Regions from separate parts of the Homo sapiens genome. Here region 2 is linked to region 1. Evidence: fine-mapped expression QTL. Tissue or cell type: gastroesophageal junction. Region 1 holds a variant in brackets; the other region holds the start of a gene. All regions are shown on one strand. Distances are from middle to middle.

Region 1 (9,466 bases):
ATCTTCCAACCTGGAAATATGTGAATGTAAAGCCATGATGTAACACACAGGAACACACCCTTTACCTAGGAACACACCCTTTGCCTAGGAACACACCCTTTGCCTAGGAACACACCCTTTCATGTACTTACATTTGAGACTAAATAAAAAGTCTCTGCAAATTTCATGAAATTATTTAAATACAAGGCACACTTGCAAACTATAATCATTTTGCATCTCAATGAAAGACACAGAATCATAATCAAAATTGCAATATCTAGTTTTAATGTACTGGATTACATTAAAATAGTATTACTATTTGAGAATCAAAAAGAAAAAAATATAAGTAAAAAGGCAAGAAAAATATTTTTTAATGTTGAAGTCCTGATAGGAGACTTTGCTATGTAGATTTAGGCATCAGGGAAGACTTTTCACATCAGAAATGCCAGCCACTTTCCCACAAGAAAGAATATTATGTGCACATCTTAATAATTCAGTTCACTAGAACTTTTTCTGATTCTCCTTCCTCTATTTGTAAAATAAACAATTTTAAAAAGCTTCATGTAGTAACCATGGAAAAAGAAAAAGGCATGTATTGATAATCTGAGATTGGTGATTTTTTTTTTTTTAAAGAATTGGTATGTCAAAAGCATATGCTGTGCCTCATGGCCAATATGGAAATGTCAGGGGTTTAATTGGCAGCTGTGAATAGCAGCACCTGCAAACAGCTCAGGGCTTGTTCCTGTGGTCTGGCAACATTCTTACTTAATGCTTTAAATAAAGGCTTACTCACTGGGACAGAAATAACTGACAATGGATGATTGATGATTGTCCATCACGCAATGGCTGACGTCTACCATTCACCAGGTCTGTTTACGAGCGCACGCCCAGATTTCATTAACAGGGGCATGACATCCAGGAGTGGGCCTGCCACAGATGGCCAGTCAGTAATCTAGTTCAAAACACCTAGAAGAGACCAAGATTTGTTAATCTGGAAAAATAGATTGTTGCAGATTCAGAATGCCTTATGAAGATGATTTTCAAAGTTCCCTTTTCTTTTTTTCTGCTTGTGTTCTTTTGTTTTGTCAATGTGTTTGGTTTCAAGTTCAATGTCAGGTTACATTTCTCTGATTCTTATTCCATACTGACTTTGCATTTGAAAGATGCGATGGCAGAAAGACGTATACAAGGAATTATATTTCTAATCATTAATTTATAACACTAATGTCTGGGGGACTATTCAAGCTTTGAGTATAGTCAATTTTACTATTTCAATTAGGAGGGCAAAAAAAGTGCAAAGAAATAAATCCACAGTGCATATACATGGCTAACGTGAATTTTCACACCTGGACATTCGTCAGCCCACAGCACGCCTCCAGGTACAGCCAAAAAACACACCAGCATATGTGGTGTACTGCAAAGAGCACTGGGATAGCAAACCTTTCCAAATAAACACCGCTAAATTAAAGCAGCTTTGCCCTGTTCAGTAAAACAGCCCATAGTATCTTGGGCTGACATGTTGTAGTATGAGACTAACACTAAGCTTTAGTTTTCTTCTTCCTGTTTCTCCTCCCTAAAGTCTCTTTTTCCCAGCTACAATGTTTTGTGGTACACATATACCTTGATTATTATTTCTCTCCAGTTAAGGATTAATCTCCTCTGATGCACTTACAAACCTTTTCATGGTTAGTGACTGGACCATGGGTTGGTTTGTTTGCTTGTTGGTGGGTTTTATTTTTTGGCCTACCTTTTGGACAGTGGCAGTTTCTACATCCTGTTTGGGAAAGGTGATGTCTTTGTCTTAAGTAATGGAGTCTTCCCCTAGAATTTTGCTCATTGCCTTTTCAACCACTTGTGAACTTATTTCTACAAATGGTTGTATTCTAGGCATTTCATTGGCAAAACTTGAGTAAAGTGGCCTATTTGTTTTTAGCCCTTTCTGAGTCTCACTGTATTCTCCTGAGGAAAATAGGGCAGGGATCATTTTCTTGTCATTTCAGTGCAAGAAAAGCTAGACCAAGAGAAGTCAAGCAACTGGAACCACATCCCACAACTTTAGCTAGCACAAGAGCCTCTACGAGCATCCAGGACTCACATGTGGCACTTGAGGGATCTTTCCACTGGGCTATTTGGGTGTGAGGCATGTGGACTGGATGGCACAGATCACCTGCTTTTTGGGGTCATCAATGAATATACAACCATAGCTAGAGAATGGCTGCCCTGCCAAAGTCCTAATTCAACCCCAAACAGTGTGCATAGCAGTGAACAAACATGGAGGACCAAGCATGTGCCAAAGGCCATGCTCTTTGCCATTCAGAACATTACTGCAAAATAAGAAAGGTCTGCCTTGCCTCTGAAATTGCTACCTTTGAATATGTATCTATCTTGGCTTTTTAAGTACTTTTTGTTTTGTTTTGTTTTGCTGTACAATCTGCTGTCTCTCCTTTTGTTTAATTGCATTCAGTTTTACAATTTCCCCCAGGAAAAGCAGCTAATTATATTTTAGCACAGAGAGAGGCAGGTGTTAGCTAAGATGTAAGAGTCCTAATTTTAGCCTTGATAATTCATGCAGTTTAGCTGGATCTCAATGTAAAGTCACCAGACTGGGTGTGTGAGCTCATCATTTTAGGCTTTCTGAAATTTGCATGGGATCATGTGACTACAGATTTGCACTTTGAGCTTGTAAATGACAAAGGGTTGGCAATAATTGAAATGGTTGTGTTGTAATCTTGTGTCCAAGGAAATATGGTCCAATGGTAAATCCAAATAAACTGAACATGGGAAGTGCATTTGGATAAGATCATTTGGATAAGCAGCCAGGCTTCTTGGGGTTGAACCCTGTCTGTACATTTCCTAGCTGTGTGACCTTGCGCAAGTCATTTAACCTCTCTGTGCTTCTGTTTCTTTATCTAAAAATTTAAGATAGGCCTGGGCGTGGTGGCTCACGCCTGTAATCCCAGCACTTTGGGAGGCTGAGGCGGGCAGATCACGAGGTCAGGAGATCGAGACCATCCTGGATAACATGGTGAAACCCCATCTCTACTAAAAATATAAAAAATTAGCCAGGTGTGGTGGCAGGCACCTGTAGTCCCAGCTACTTGGGAGGCTGAGGCAGGAGAACGGCATCAACCCAGGAGGCAGAGCTTGCAATGAGCTGAGATTGTGCCACTGCACTCCAGCCTGGGGGACAGAGAAAGACTCCATCTCAAGAAAAAAAAAATTAGGATAGTGTCAGTATATATCTGTAGGTCGTTGTGGGGATTAAATGAGGTAAGTTATGTAAAACTCATCACAATACCTGGGTCATAGCTAGGTATCTATATTTTTATATTCAGGGAATAATTGTATTGGAAAAGCCTAAGATTTTTGGAACAGCAACAGCAGCAAAGGCAGAAATTAGAGAAATATCCAGAAGCAAATTCTCCTCTAACAAATATTGGCATTTCAGAACATATCTGAAACAAATGTTTGCTCTTGAGATGAGTAGGTTCCCCAGTACTGAGATCATCTTCGTTTCCATGGACATGGCATTTACAGTCAAAATATCCAATTATATCCGTGAGAATACTCCTCCAATTGTTCTGATGTGTTTGTGTGTGTCTCTGTGTGTGCTTGTGTGTATGTAGGACTTTCTTCCAGGTTCAGAGATAGTAGGGGGCAGTGTCATGTAGACCAAACAACCAAACGACTTACTGAATTTTTTTCATCCCTACTGGTTGTTTTAAGTAGGGACAGCTCTGGCCCAACTCTGTTGACTGTAGCTTCTGAGCTGTTCTCACAGGGCCTACAGGGGAGTTACTGATTGTTTTCCCAGGAATCTGCCAAGTGCGGTGGTGTATGATGGAACATGCCACTTCCCTATCTCTGGAACCTGAGTATGAGTTGAGAATAATGATCATTTCTGCTAATGAGTAATTAAAAACAATTTCAAGACTACCTCTAAC[C/T]TCTGCATTTGTGAATGCCACCCTTTCTTAAATGCTATACCGAGGTTCTTTGCTAAGGCTCAAAGTCTTCCATTCCTCTCTCTGACTCCAAATTCAATCAATCAAGTCTTCCTTTCTAGTAGTTCTCATATTTATTTTATTCACTCTATTTAAGATCCACTTTATCTTTCATTTGGACTATATAATGACCACCCATAGAGCCTTCCTGATTCTAATCTGTCTCCCTTGAAATCCCTAATCCAGCCTCCAAAGTGCCTCTAGAGTAATATTTTTTAAATCACAAACTTTTTCATGGTTCACCATTGTCCACAGAATCAAAGCCAAGTTTCTTTGTATTGCACAAAAGGCTTTGCATGATTTAGTTCCTGACAGCATGGCCAGCCTCATCTCCCTCCTCTTGCTGCCTGCGTTCTAACTACACAAAGCTGTTTGAAGTTTTGTATCTCTCTCTTCCCTTTTTCTCTCTCTGGTGTTTCATTCTTTAATGCTCTCCTAAACATTATTTCCTGTGTACAAATCATCTTCCTTTTGTGACTGTAGCATGCTTCTATTAATATTTTAAGATTTGCTCATGCCTGTAATCCCAGCACTTTGGGAGGCTAAGGTGGGCAGATCACGAGGTCAGGAGATCAAGACCCTCCTGGCCAACATGGTGAAACCCCGTCTCTATTAAAAATACAAAAATTAGCTGGGTGTGGTGGCGGGTGCCTGTAATCCCAGCTACTCGGGAGGCTGAGGCAGGAGAATTGCTTGCACCCGGGAGGTGGAGGTTGCAATGAGCCGAGATCACGCCACTGCACTCCAGCCTGGTGACAGAGCAAGACTCCATCTCAAATAAAATAAAATAAAATAAAATAAAATAAAGATTCTGCTTGGGTTTACCTTTTCCTTGACTTCTACAGAAAAAAAATTGTCATTTCTTCCTCTGGGCTATCTTTGTACAGATACAAATGAGATTGGTACACTGTATGGTATTTGTTTGTTTTACATCTGTTTCCTTTACTAGATAGTATGTCTTTGAATGTGGACCATTTCATTCATTTTTATTTCTATAATCATTATCATGGCCTTTAGGTACAAGGTAGATATACAATGTGCATTGTGAACAGTTATTAATAGTTACACAGTAATTCAAAGATTCATCTAGACAACTATATATAACATTGGATAAGAATTGAAAATTCTAGCTTGTGTAAATGAAGCATTTATTGAGAAACATGCCTTAGATTGAAACAATTCTTCATCTGATGCCTTTGATGATGCAACCCAGGCAAATACTTGCTTACCATCCTCAAAAATTCTATAACTCATCAAACTTAATTAAACGGTTAGAATCTTATCCTTTTAATTAGTGCTTGCACTTGAAAACTTTAAAAATAATGTCAATAATGACTAATAAGCTTTGAGCTTTTTGGTTTACGTGGTTCCGTCTCTAATTGTTGGCAGATTGCTACAGTCCTATCCTTTTGCAACACTGTGTATTTTGTATGAAAGTGACTTTTCCTCTTATTTCAGAGGGAGGAGAACATCCAAAATAATTACTAAGGAGAGAATATCTGAAATAATTAGGGAACAAACTTTGAGGACTCAAAAACAAGCACATGTCATCACCTCTCAAGATGGGCATATCTGGAAGGCCTATGTTATTCTTATTGCTGCGGTGGGGGACCCATGTCCTCCATACCCAAGCCTCTTGAAGCTTATAGAGTAGAAAATTCCTCACAATTTTCATTAAGAACCATTATATCAAGGGAATCATCATTCAGCTATGACAGATTGCTTTGCAGTGTAATGTTTTTCATCTTGAGAGCAAATGTTTCTTCAATCAATTTTTTTAAAGGGAGAAAGTAAGTAGTTATTTTGAATACATGTAAAATGCAAATAAAGTGACTATGGATGTTTGGGGAGCTCATACAATAGTAAGTCCAAAATAACTTTGATTTAAAAATTGAACATTGGCAAGTGATCAATCAATACTGGCCTCTAACTGCTTTTAGTGTCTTGACTAAATAAAAATGTTATTTTAGTGGCAGAGACATTTCACCTTGAAAAGCGGCCATGGAGCATGCACAATGACTACAAGGATGTTTTCCCTGGAATACATAATCCACACGCTCAGCTTCATGCACATCCTGGATACTGCCTGCCTCTGATTGACATAAGGCATTTTAATTTAAAAATGTTTCTCAAAGTGCCTAAACATATGTTTATGCACTATAGCTATTGAGTAGTATTACATAGAAATGCAAAATCTTGGAATGAAAGTTGACTCTGTGCAGGACCACACAATGGAATATAATGGAAACCAGAAAAGGAGAGGACTTGTGTCATTTTGTAGGCAAGGCAAAAAAAAAAAAAAAAAAATCCTTTAACAATTCAGTCATGTTAAAATTGGGAGACAATACTGACATAAGAAATACAGTCGATGTTAAGACAGTAGAGTCCTTCTTCACCACAGCAGGTCTAGACAGCTCCCACAGCCATGTCTGCCCTCTCACAGGGTGATATGTAGCCCTTCTTAGAGGGTGGTAAGAGCTCCGAAGGGAACATCAGTGCAGGGTCTTAGTTAATTTCCTTTTGCACAGGTGTCTGTGTCATAGTGGTTTTAAATTTGCTAGGAGGCAGCTTAATGGGGACAGCCTTAGGTGCACAACACTGCAACTCACCAAACCTCAAGGCAAAGTGCTCACCCGATAGAGAACGCATGTGGTTCCTTCCTGGCTGAGACTTTGTGCCAGAATCCAGCTTTATGCACCTCCCTTTCTGTCCCAGAAGGGGCTTCACCGACTTGCATGATGTGCTGTGCGTGGCCAAGACTGCTTCTTGTGGTGTGTGCTAGGTGAATACAGATTCAGCTCTCCTCCCAGTGTTCTGTGGGAATGGTGGTGACAGATATTGGATGGTTCTAAATACAGATATCAGAATGTCTACAATAAGATGCATAGAACATAATCCAAGTGAGATGCAGTGCTTCAACCATATAGCCTGTGCCCCAATTATTGATGGCAAATAATGAGCTAGATCTGATCCAGCCCCTCCTCCAGAGGCAATGCAGTCCATTTCTTTTCTTTTTTTGGAGATGGAATCTTGCTCTGTTCCCCAGGCTAGAGTGCGATGATACGATCTTGATCTCAGCTCACTGCAACCTCCGCCTCCCAGGTTCAAGCAATTCTCCTACCTCAGCCTCCCAAATAGCTTGGATTACAGGCACATGCCAACATGTCCAGCTAATTATTTAATTTTTTTTAGTAGACAGGGTTTTACCACGTTGGCCAGACTGATCTTGAACTCCTGACCTCAGATGATCTGCCCACTTCAACCTCCTTAAGTGCTGGGATTACAGGCATGAGCCACTGCGCCTGGCCAATACAGTCAATTTATTATGAACTCCTGTGTCATTGATGATTTGTCTATATCAGTGGTTCCCAATTAAACTGACAGGAGCCTGGCACTGTGATGCCCTGGGGAGAAGGGTGACAAAAAGAATCCAGTATTGCAATTCTGCTATCAGCCAAATGGAGCTTCTTTTGCTGAAACCTTGGATTTTTAACAGCAGTGATAACCTCTGAGAATCACCTTGGGATTTTGGAGGAAGTAAAGTTGAAAAATGACCCTTGGATACTAAACTTGTTTAGGGCAGGAATATGGTTTTCTATAACTTCATTGAGGGTGGGAATATTTGGTCAGAAACAACACTTTACTATACCTGCACTGAGCATCCAATTGTCCTCCGATTGGTTGAAAAATGAAATTTTTCATAGAGCTTCAAATCCAGTCTTCTGGTCTCGAGGTCTGGAAGGCAGGGCTCTTGTTCCAACTTTGGGCCACTGAAGTTTTCAAACCTTGGTATTTCCTTCTGAAGCTGCTGTGGAATCTTCAGCTTCACTGCACTACAGGACTAATGAAGGCAGGTTTTCTGAAACTGTGAAGGGTACCTTTTTAGATTCTAACTTCTTCATTTGTAAAATGATGTTAGCAATGTGGTATTACCAAAATGATGTTACCATGATGATTTCTATCTAAGGCTCCTTCTGTTCTGTCACAGATCACTCCATGATTCTGATTACCATTCTCTGTAAGACTTTCTCTTATTGTTCTGGGATACTTGAAAGAATATTTCTCGTATAGTTAGAAGCTGATCATTTTAAATTCTCTTTAGACAAATGTTTCTTTCATGTGGTGCACCATTTTCAAATGCAATTTGGGGCCGCTTTTTTCTTGTTGGATCTGAGATGGATCACAGGGGTTTGCCCCTAGTCTTCAAACACACAAGCAAACCAGGGTCTGGGAGATTTATAGTTTACATCATCATCGTTGTCGTAGTCATCATCCTCATCCTCATGATCTTCTTCTTGTTTTTTTTTCCCCCTCCAGATTTAATCTAGCAGACTACACTGACCTGGCTTAAGAATTTTTCAAATATAAATGATCTAAATGTTACCTTACTTGGCAAAACAAAGGCAGAGCAAGTAATTTTCTCAAATCTCTCTTCGGGCATGCCTTATAAGGAAGATTTTCTTTCTGGGGGGATTTAGACTCTCATTAATCTATTTCTTCTTTCAACAATAAAATGAAAAATGGAATGAGATTATCAAAATGGATAGTCTGGTGTGGACCTGATAACACGCTTTTGAAAAGTGGTTTACATTTGACATCAGTTAAGCTCCTTGGGCCAAGGCGTCTCAGGTCTGCTATGTGGGGCCTGGACTCCACTCCCAGTGTGGTCACAAATATGCTTTATTGTTTCAAAGGCCTCTCAAGGCAGTTGGAAGGATGAATGAATTCCTAGGGCAGTAAGTATTAAGTCATCGGCAAAACTATAAATATCTCCTAACCCTATCTTATGGAGAACTTATACAAAGACATTTTTGTGCAGTATGCTTTTTCCTTAACCTAGACATATATGTATTTTAAATTTGTATTATTTTACACATTTTTATACATGGTACAAAAAGGTAGGTAGTATAAAGTGAGCAATATAGATATTTAAAAGTTGATGCATCTTTCTTTGTGCCCTTTGGCACACAGAGTGTGACTGTTTCTTCTGTAAGGATTTTTAACAATCTTGAAGGAGTGGAAAATTCTGTGTTTCTTGTAATTGCAAGGACAATGGCAGTTAAAAAAGCCAATGTATAACTTCAAAATAATCATTTCAAAGTAATTATTCAGAACGTACAGAGTAGCTTAAAGAAAAACAACAAGCTGACAACACACCTTATAGTATTCACTGGCTTTAAAACCTGTGCTTGTAATTGAAAGTGAGATTAGCAGAAGTGACTGAATCCATGCTAGGGGAGATGTGGTTGGGACGTAGACGTCATCCCTATGTTCCACTCAACTGATTAAAAATTTCTTGATCACCCCTCACACTCTTCATTCCATTCTCTCAAAATCAGATTTGTGGACTAAACCATGAAATAAATTACCTTTTCCTAATGTTCTTTAATAAAAGTGGAACCATGTACTGCTCAATACATAAGCCAGTAAGAGAGGATCCATATGAAACTAAGCACTTTTAGCCCTTGTTAAGAATAAGAGCTGGT
Region 2 (9,466 bases), 70 kb before region 1:
AGTAAGTAATTTTCAAGTTAAAATTTACTATAATTTCCTACCCCATAATGATTACAGGTTACAGCCATCCTAGGTGTGTTAAGACAACACGTCTGTACTTTAGGCTCAAGTTGTTCATTTCAGCAATGGTTACTTGGGCACTATAGAATTTGGAGTTATGGTAAAGTATTCACTGTTATTTTATTTGCAGCATTAATATGCTTTAAAGGATTACTACATGGTTATTTCTCTTATAAACATCACTAAATTCTTTAAACTTCCTTAATTACTTTCTAAATGTGAGTTGGATATTTATTTGGTAAATTAAGTTCTTTTTACATTTTTTTTAATGCTTCTAGGATTTTTGGTCATTTGAGAGGTAGGAGAGATCTCTGAGAGAAATAGTAATATTCCTGCTAATTTATACAAGTGAAGGTTCAAGTAATTAATTTGAATTTTAAAAGATGTAATATCACTTGTATTCCAGTCTTATCCGGTTATAAATAAATAAAACTAAACAATGGTTTAAATACATGTAGGTAAAAAACAATCATGGAAAGAAAAAGTATTAGTAGAAGGTCAAACACTGAGGAAAAATAATGGAATTATCTATTCACAACGGTTTATATGGTTTATATAACTGCTAGCCCTGAATCTCAAATTTAGTTCTAGGATTTCTGTCAGCAAAATTAAAGAGTAAAAACAGAATAGTTTACAAGATAGAAGAAATATATCAGCTCCTCAGTAGGAACTAAGATCTTTGCCTTACATTAACATTTTAAACATTTTAATTGATAAATATAACATGTGTGTAGAAAATGAACAAAATGTACAGCTCAGTAGATTACCACAAAGCAAATACTTTTGTAATTAACAACTAGAACATGAAAATAAACAAAGCCAATAAATACATGAAATTCTCTCCTCCCTCTGTCCACTTCTAATCACTGTCCCTTCCCCCTCCCGAAGGTAACTATTATCCTGACCTTTATGGTAATCATTCCTAGATTTTTCTTTATCATTTTAACACTAAAGCTTACATCCCTATACAATATAGTAGAACTTTGCCTGATGGAATTTATATGGGATTTATTTAACATTATGGAGGAGGGTTGGGAGGTCTAGCTTTTTTTTGCTCAACTTTATGTTTGTCAGATTTATCCATGTTGTCGCACAGAGTTGTAGTTTTCATTTTCATTGCTATTTTGTTGTGTGAATATAGTTCAATATATTTATCATTCTACTGTTGGAAAGCATTTGGTCCACTTACAGTATGAAGTAATTTTGAATTGAATTTTACTGCTAAAAGCATTTTTCTTCTTCTTTGTTTTTTCTTTTTTTTTTCTGTTGCCCAGGCTGGAATGCAGTGGCACAATCATGACTCACAGCAAGTCAACTTCTGGGCTCAAGTGATTCTCCTTCCTAGTAGCTGGGACTACAGCCATGCGCCAAAATGCCCAGCTAATTTTTTGTATTTTTTGTAGAGATGGGTTTTCGCCATGTTGCCCAGGCTGGTCTCAAACTCCTGGGCTCAAGCAGTCCACCTGCCTCGGCTTCTCAAAGTGCTAGGATTACAGGCATAAGCCACTGCATCCCACCAAAGCATTTTTATAAACTGTATCTTGATGAACAAGTCCATGCATTTAAACAGAGAATATTCCTCAGAGTGGGATTGCTAGATCAAAAACTGGTTTCCAAAGTGGTTGTGCCAAATTATACTCTCACCAGCAGTACGTGACAGCTTCCATTGGTTTACTGCCTCAATACCTATATTGTCAGTCTTTTTAACTTTAGCCATTCTGATATGGTTTTCATTTGCATTTTCCTGATTAAAAATGAATCTGATTTTTCCATAAGTTTGTTGATAATATTTTCTCTTGTGAAGATCCTGCTCAAGGGTCTCATCCACTTTTGGTTTTGACAGTCAATCATTTCCTTAGTGATTTGTATCAGTTCTTCATATAACCTATATATAGGCCCTTAAATATGTCTTATAAATATTTTCTCCCAATTTGTGCCTTGCCCTTCCTTCTCTTTAATGTTGTTTTTGAATGGACAGAAGTTCTCAAATTATCAATTTTGTGTAGTCACATTTATAATTATGCCTGGTGACCTTTGTTTTATTTCAAATGCGTTCTGTCATGAAGACAATTTATACCTTCTAAAATGTTATTTTATCTTCTACAATTAAATTTATAATGAATATATATGCACCTGATTTGGGGATAAAGTTTGAGGTAAAGGTCATGTTTCTTTCTTTTTCTACATGAACATCAAATAGACCAAGCACTATTTAATTTCAAAAGTCCTTTTACCATTGCTCAGAAGGGTCACCTTTGTCTTAAATCGTGTTCATTTATATGGAAGTCTGTTTCTGTGCTATCCTGTTTCTTTCATCTTTGTCTATCCTGACACCATCATAACACTGTCTTAATTACCATATAAGTCTTGATACCTGGTAGATATCAACCCTCATTATTCTTCGAGAGATCTTCAAGAGTTTATTGATATTTTTGGTCCCTTGCATTTTCATATAAATTTTAGAAAAAACTTACCATGTTACACACACACAGTCACACACTGGGCCTTCATATGTATTTATGTTGAATCTATAGGTCAGTTTGGAAATAGCTGACATTGTAACAATATTGAGTCTCACAACCCATGAACATAGTGTAACCATTTATTTAGGTCTTCGTTTTCTTTCAAAAAAAAAATTTTTTTTTTTTTTGAGACGGAGTCTTGCTCTGTTGCCCAGGCTGGAGTGCAGTGGCGCAATCTCGGCTCACTGCAACCTCCACCTCCCAGGTTCAAGCAATTCTCTGCCTCAGCTCCCAAGTAGCTGGGATTACAGGCACCCGCCACCACGCCTGGCTAATTTTTGTATGTATGTATGTATGTATGTATTTACTTATTTTACACGAAGTCCCCCTCTGTCGCCCAGGCTGGAATGCAGATGCGCGATCTCTGCTCACTGCAAGTGCAGTGGCGCAATCTCGGCTCATTGCAACCTCCGCCTCCCAGGTTCAAGCAATTCTCCTGCCTTGGCCTCCCCAGTAGCCGGGACTACAGGCACGCACCACCATGCCCGGCTAATTTTTTGTATTTTTAGTAGAGACGGGGTTTCACCATGCTGGTCAGGCTGGTCTTGAACTCCTGACCTCGTGATCCGCCTGCCTCGGCCTCCCAAAGTGCTGAGATTACAGGCTTGAGCCATGGCGCCCGGCCTCAAAAATGTTTTATAGTTCTCTTTGTAGGAAGGACAATCTTTAACTTATTCCTAGTTACTTGCTATCTCATGCACTATTATAAATAGTATCTCTTTAAAACTTCAATTTTATATCTGTTGCTAATCTATTGAAACACATTGATCTTTGAATATTGACTTTGTATCCAGCAACTCTTAAATTAATTTAGTAATTTTTTCTACTTTCTTTTGGATTTTTCTATGCACATAGCATCTATGAAAAATTAACTGTATTTCCTCTTCTTGAGAAATTCGAAGACTCTCAATAATCTGAATTTGACTAACGTGCAATTTTCGTTGTAAATTCAATAAAAAGTTGCTAGTGTATTCAATCTTTCCAACTCACAAGCTCCCACTCTCAGTTTACGCGGACCTGACTACTACCCGAACAACCCCCACCAGTCTGGAGGATTTTGAGCCTAGACACTCCTCCAGAGCAGGCTCCTGTCCCGGCTGCGGAAGTGCGCGCGCCCTCGGCACCTTAACAGTTCCGCCCCTCTCCCGGACCCAGCCAATCAGCGGCCGCCTCTTGCGCGCGCCCCACCGACCAAAATGGCGGCTGCCGTTGGTGCGGGGTGCGGTTTGTAGTGCTGTTGCCCTACTCATCCCTTTGCAAAATGTGAAAGAAGAAGCGGCTGGTGGAGGCGGGCCATAGGCAATGAGTCGGCGAAGGAAACATGATGACAGCCCTAGCCCGAAGAAAACGCCGCACAAAACAGTGGCGGCGGAGGAATGCGGCTCGGTGGTCGAGCCAGGGAGGAGGCGGCTGAGATCGGCCCGCGGTTCGTGGCCCTGCGGGGCTAGAGAGGGGCCTCCCGGGCCAGTGCGGCAGCGAGAGCAGCCTCCGACCGCCGCCCTGTGCAGTAAAAGTAACCCCGAGGGTGAGACGTCGGCAGCGCGGCCTGCCTTGGCTTCGGCGCCGCATCCCCACATCCCAGCTTGCAACAGGGAAATCTGGGGTGGGGGTGGAGTCTGGAGCGTGTATTCTGTCTCTGGGATTCACCCCTCGAGAGTCCAAAAATAATCCTATACCACTCCCCGATGGGCTTTTGTCCCCGAACTTCAGCACTACCCCGTTAGGTTTGACCATCCATTTGCCTCCGCCACAGGAATAGGTAATGTGGTTTACCTGTTTGCGGGAGGGCGGCTGCTTTCCAGGCTGCTCCTCCAGTCAGCAGCAGTGGTGGAGTGAGAAGAAACAGCTGATAGGCCCGCTAACCTCAGTTTTTGCCCGGAGAAGTTATTTCTCTTTAAACCCTTTTTTTCCCTGTGACCTGCTTTAGAGAAGAGTTCATAGGAAAAGTTAAAGTTTGTCTCAAAGCCTGGTAGATGTCTCACCTCATTGTGAATAAACCGGAAGTTCCTGTGTGTAACATCCCTCCAAATAAGATACTAAGGATCTCTTTCGTCTCGATTAGTTTTAGGTGTTACTTTTTAAAAGACTTCTAGTAAATCTTAGTTGGAACTGAAACTCATACAAAAGCCTTTATTCTGGAGCATGTTCTTGAAATAGTGCTTTTTTTTTTTTTTTTTTTTTTATACCTTACGTGTCTTTTTTCTTTTGGGAAAGAATCTCGCCCTGTCGCCCAGGCTGCAGTGCAGTAGCACAATCTCGGCTCACTGCAACCTCCGCCTCCCGGGTTCAAGCGATTCTCCTGCCTCAGCCTCCCAAGTAGCTGGGACTACAGGCGTGTGCCACCTCGCCCGGCTAATTTTTTGTATTTTTGGTAGAGACAGGGGTTTCACCGTGTTAGCCAGGATGGTCTCGATTTCCTGACCTCGTGATCCACCCGCCTCGGCCTCCCAAAGTGCTGGGATTACAGCCACCGCGCCCGGCCACCTTACATGTCTTTAATAATACTCCTATAAAGCAATTTGGGAATGAACAAAAATCTTTATAAAAATTTGAAAGTGATTCTAGACAAAAATTCCCAAGCATTGGATCACTAATGGTTTTTGAAGAATGGCAATTAATGTAGATTAGATAGAGTTGGTGAAAGGGGGCTAAACATATTTAGGTTTCTGTTGGGTTACTTTGGATTTTTGAATGTACCTATAAATTACAGATGGTTCCCCAAAGCCTCCAAGACTCAATGGTAATAAATAGAATGACTTAGGTTATACAGTATTGTATTATGCATTCATAAAGCTTCTGGATTATCTAGAAGTGTTTGCTATTTACAATGTGAAGTTTGCGAAGTGCCGCGTGGATTTTTATGTGAAACAAGCATTTCTGTTACGGTTCAGGTAATTATCTCTGGGAAAAAAAATTATCTTGGACTATAAAAGTTAGTCTCAGCTATTTGACCTTGGGGTCTTACGAAGTAAGGTAATGCTTTAAAATGCAACAATTGTTATTTTACTCATATTTTATATAGAAAGGTATGAAACACCAAAGAGAGCGCTGAAAATGGACTCACTGTCATCTTCCTTCAGTTCTCCTAATGATCCAGATGGACAGAATGATATCTTTTGGGATCAGAATTCTCCATTGACAAAGCAGTTAGGTAATTAATTATTAACATTTTTTATGTGAGTAAATATTTGATAAATGATTCAGATTTAACTAGAATTCTAGTCAGATAATAGCATCGGGAACCTCTGAGAATGTTATATGATTTTATCTGTATAAGTATGTGATGTAAACACATAATCCTCTAAGCTGCACTAAATAAAATTACTTTCTAAGAAGTGACAGCTGTTTTTTAAAATGGAGGGTTTTTTGTTTAAAATTTATAGAAATGTCTTTGTTTCTTTAGGTAAAGGAAGAAAAAAACAGATTTACACCACAGATAGTGATGAGATTTCACATATTGTTAATCGTATTGCTCCTCAGGTAAATATCACTAGTTTTACAGTTTGTTTTAAAACAGTGAAGAATGTGCCACTAAGTTTTTGTAGTTTCTTTAAATGAAAAGTATTGTCTATTATAATTCTTTTTTCCAAAAATAAGGCAGCAAAGATTACTGTTTTGCCTTTTCTACTTTTGAAATACATATTTTGAAAAAAGGAATATAATATAAAATACAAGATATTTTCTTAAGTATATATCTTGTTTTAATTTTTTAGAGTAATTTTTGACTAGGGCATTGTGTTTATCTGTAATGTTGTGCTTAACAACATACGACATCATTTTTCAAGTTGCTAAAATAATAGAATAAGGCAGTGAAAAAAGTTTATACTTCTATGATTGTTTTGTGATTGGTACTTCCTGTCTGTAACATTTCCCCATTGAAACTATTAATACTCATTTCCTTATAAGATTATCAAGAAACACTTACAAAAGTGGAGAGCACTGAATTCAAATTTAGTCCTCATTCAACCTCCTATGCTGTGTGACCCAGTGCAAGTTATTTAAACTCCCACCACTTCAGTTCATTCAGCCATGAACTAGAATTATTGTGTTGCTCTTGCTGTCTTCATTGGATCATTATGAGAATTAAACTAGATAAAAATTCTTTGTAAACTATAGAGTGCTATAATTGTAAGGTTACGTTAAGGTTGTTACTGTAATAGAACCATCTCCAAAGCTTTTTTTTCTTTTCTTGGACAGGCATGGTGACTCATTCCTGTAATCTCAGCATTTTGGGAGGAAGGCTGAGGCAGGAAGATTGCTTGAGGCCAGGAGTTTAAGACCCTGTCTCTTAAAAAAAATTTTTTTTTGAGTGTTTCGTTTCTTTTTTTCATTTCTGTTCTTTTATTGTTTGAGTGAAATAGAAATATGTTCAAGTCAATCATTTGACACAAAGCAATCCAGTAACTCTAATATTATAATTACTAAGAAGCAAAGGCTCAATACGTGAAACTGTTCTGAACTTCTTTACTTTTTGTTCTCTTTTTCTTATTTAACATTTAAATCCAGAGAACATTTTTGCTTAGTGTCTTCTCTGAAGGAAGTATGCCATTTTTCCTTAACCTGCGCTTGAATAGTTACTATATGTTGACCATAAACAATAGATGGCACTGGCCCAAAACATGGTTTGAAGAATTACTGTCACCCAGGTGGAAGAGACAGAAAATGAAGTTTTTCTTAGCAGCTATAAAATATCCAAAATTACACCTAGCACAGTCAAAACAACTCTGTTGCTACTAGCTCTACATTCCATTTTTAGCATGTCATAGAAATTCATTTTACTTACAGTTAATTAGTTAAATAGCATTTATGCCATAATAGTACTTACTCTATAAGTTAACAATAGATCTTCATTAATTGTGGGTTTCACATGAAAGAAGCATAATAAAATGTGTTTGGGTGGGCCAGTCTAAATAGTGATAAAAAGATAGTTGTGAATAAATTATTGGACTCTTTACCTAAGTGGGCTAGAAATAATAGCTCATATAAAGAAATGACAACAGTACGCAAGTGGTAACTTGTATAAAAGAAAAAAATATAGTGAAATTAGTAGCTTTAAAATGTTACCCTCTTAAACTGAGTACTTTTAAAGCATATAAATCTTTAGCAGTTTCAAGGTCTGTTTGAAAGCTTGTCATGTTCTCAGAATGACAAATACTTATATTGTTTATTTTTAGGTGAGTCATTCTCAAATCATTTAGTTTTAACATTTTCAGAGATAGCATTTTTTTAAATATGCGCTTTTATTTTGGTTGGACAGTCAGTTCACTTTTTGCAGGGATACTTTTATACAATGTTGTTTATTTGAAGATGGTATGTATCTTCATTTATACAGCTTTGCACAGTATACTTTTTATAATGAAATGAAGTAATGCATTTAGATACCTTATACAGCACCTGGATTATGGTTGAAAATCAATAAATTATGTAATTATTCATGAAGAAATATGTAATAACATGTATAAATAGTATACAAACATACATAGGACCCATGTATATGTAAAGTTGGGTACATAAAGTCATAATTTAGTTCTCTGAAAATTGAATGAATTTAAAATTACTTTTGTAAATGGCAGAGTTCATAATTAAGACTATGATTGTCTTTAAATTCAAGATTGTTGAAATAAAAGGGAAAATATATTGAGTCTGAAAGTGAAATTACTGATTTTCTTGAGTATTTGCAAAGCTAAAGGCAACTAGGTTCAAGTTGACATTAAGAAAACTTTTTTGATTCATTGAGGATTTGAAGTACCAAACTGTAGGGATCTTTTCACCTAAATCTTCTAGTAAATAAATGTATACTGACACTGGTATGCCCAATATTGTGCTGGATGCTGAGTTATTCTAAGAAGAGTCCTTGCCTTTGAGTAGCCTATAATCTAGTAGTAAAATTATTTTTTAAATTGTGTGATATTTATGTTCATTCTAGGTACTATAAAATAGAGTGAAAATGGTTACTTGATTTGATTTGTTGGTTTGGTTTGCAATTAATGCCTAAAGCTCATTCTGTAATTTTTTTGTGTGATCAAGTGACTGAAAGGTACAGCAAAAGTATCCAGGTCTAAAATGCCTTTTTTCTGTATATTATCTGGGCTAAACTTTTCTGTTTTCTCTATTTTTTTATTCTTATTCCTGTCTCATTCTTAGCATCAGTTCTAACCTTGCTCTTATCTCTTAATTCATTCCTGATCTTAATTCTGAGTGTTCTTAATTTAGGTCAACATGGATTGTCCAACTTTAGATAAAGATTATAATAAGGATAAAGAAAATTTGGAGAAACAGATGATACAGAAAGAATTCCATATGTATCTCCTCTCAATTCTGATGATTTCTGCCACACAGTTTCTGACACTAATGTTTTTATAAGTATCTTAGGACAATTAAAATGTCAATTTTCTTTTGATAAAAACATGCTTCTGTTATTAAATGTACATTTGATAAATTTAATTCTTAAAACAATATTTTTTTAAAATAAGCAATTTGTAATTCTGAATGTTTTCATTCTCTGAAACATAAGTGGATCAATTATTGTAGCTTATTATTGCTATCTCCCAACTTCCTATTGTTTTTGAGTTTGGTAAGTGTTACCTCACCAGAATTTAGGAAATTAATTCAAAATCATTAGTTTTTATTGTCTTTTTTCTTTCTTTTGTTTTTTTGGAAGACGGGGGATGCTACACTGGTACTTTATACCTCTTTTTTTCCCTATCTGCCAAAGGATGAAAAACCAACAACAAATTCTATGCTGGACATGTGGATTGGTGAAACTGCTATTCCTTGTACTCCCAGTGTAGCAAAAGGAAAATCAAGAGCAAAAATCAGCTGCACAAAGTAAGTTAAGACTTTTCAGCTTTTCTGAAATTCAGTGAAGCAAATATTTTTTGATA

Which allele goes with the higher level. Alleles are on the strand shown, and positions count from the first base shown. SD is a standard deviation of normalised expression in the study named.
For the expression in gastroesophageal junction of the gene that starts at base 3,769 in region 2, C is the low allele of the variant in region 1 and T is the other (large effect, 0.85 SD a copy in GTEx).

What was found.
Region 2: ETAA1 starts here. The variant in region 1 is fine-mapped to the expression of ETAA1 in gastroesophageal junction (GTEx, PIP above 0.99). The same link has a PIP of 0.9 or more in stomach.

Annotation. Positions count from the first base shown.
Region 1 is chr2:67,463,252-67,472,717 of GRCh38, forward strand. LOC107985891 (a long non-coding RNA gene) reads right to left here and starts at 1,246. Exons shown (of 3, transcript XR_001739520.2): 1 at 773-1,246. RefSeq lists an enhancer at 540-1,120. The variant C/T (reference allele first, on the strand shown) is at 3,924.
Region 2 is chr2:67,393,565-67,403,030 of GRCh38, forward strand. It overlaps ETAA1 (ETAA1 activator of ATR kinase), which reads left to right and starts at 3,769. Exons shown (of 6, transcript NM_019002.4): 1 at 3,769-4,107; 2 at 5,605-5,733; 3 at 5,986-6,062; 4 at 9,298-9,410. The coding sequence starts at 3,885.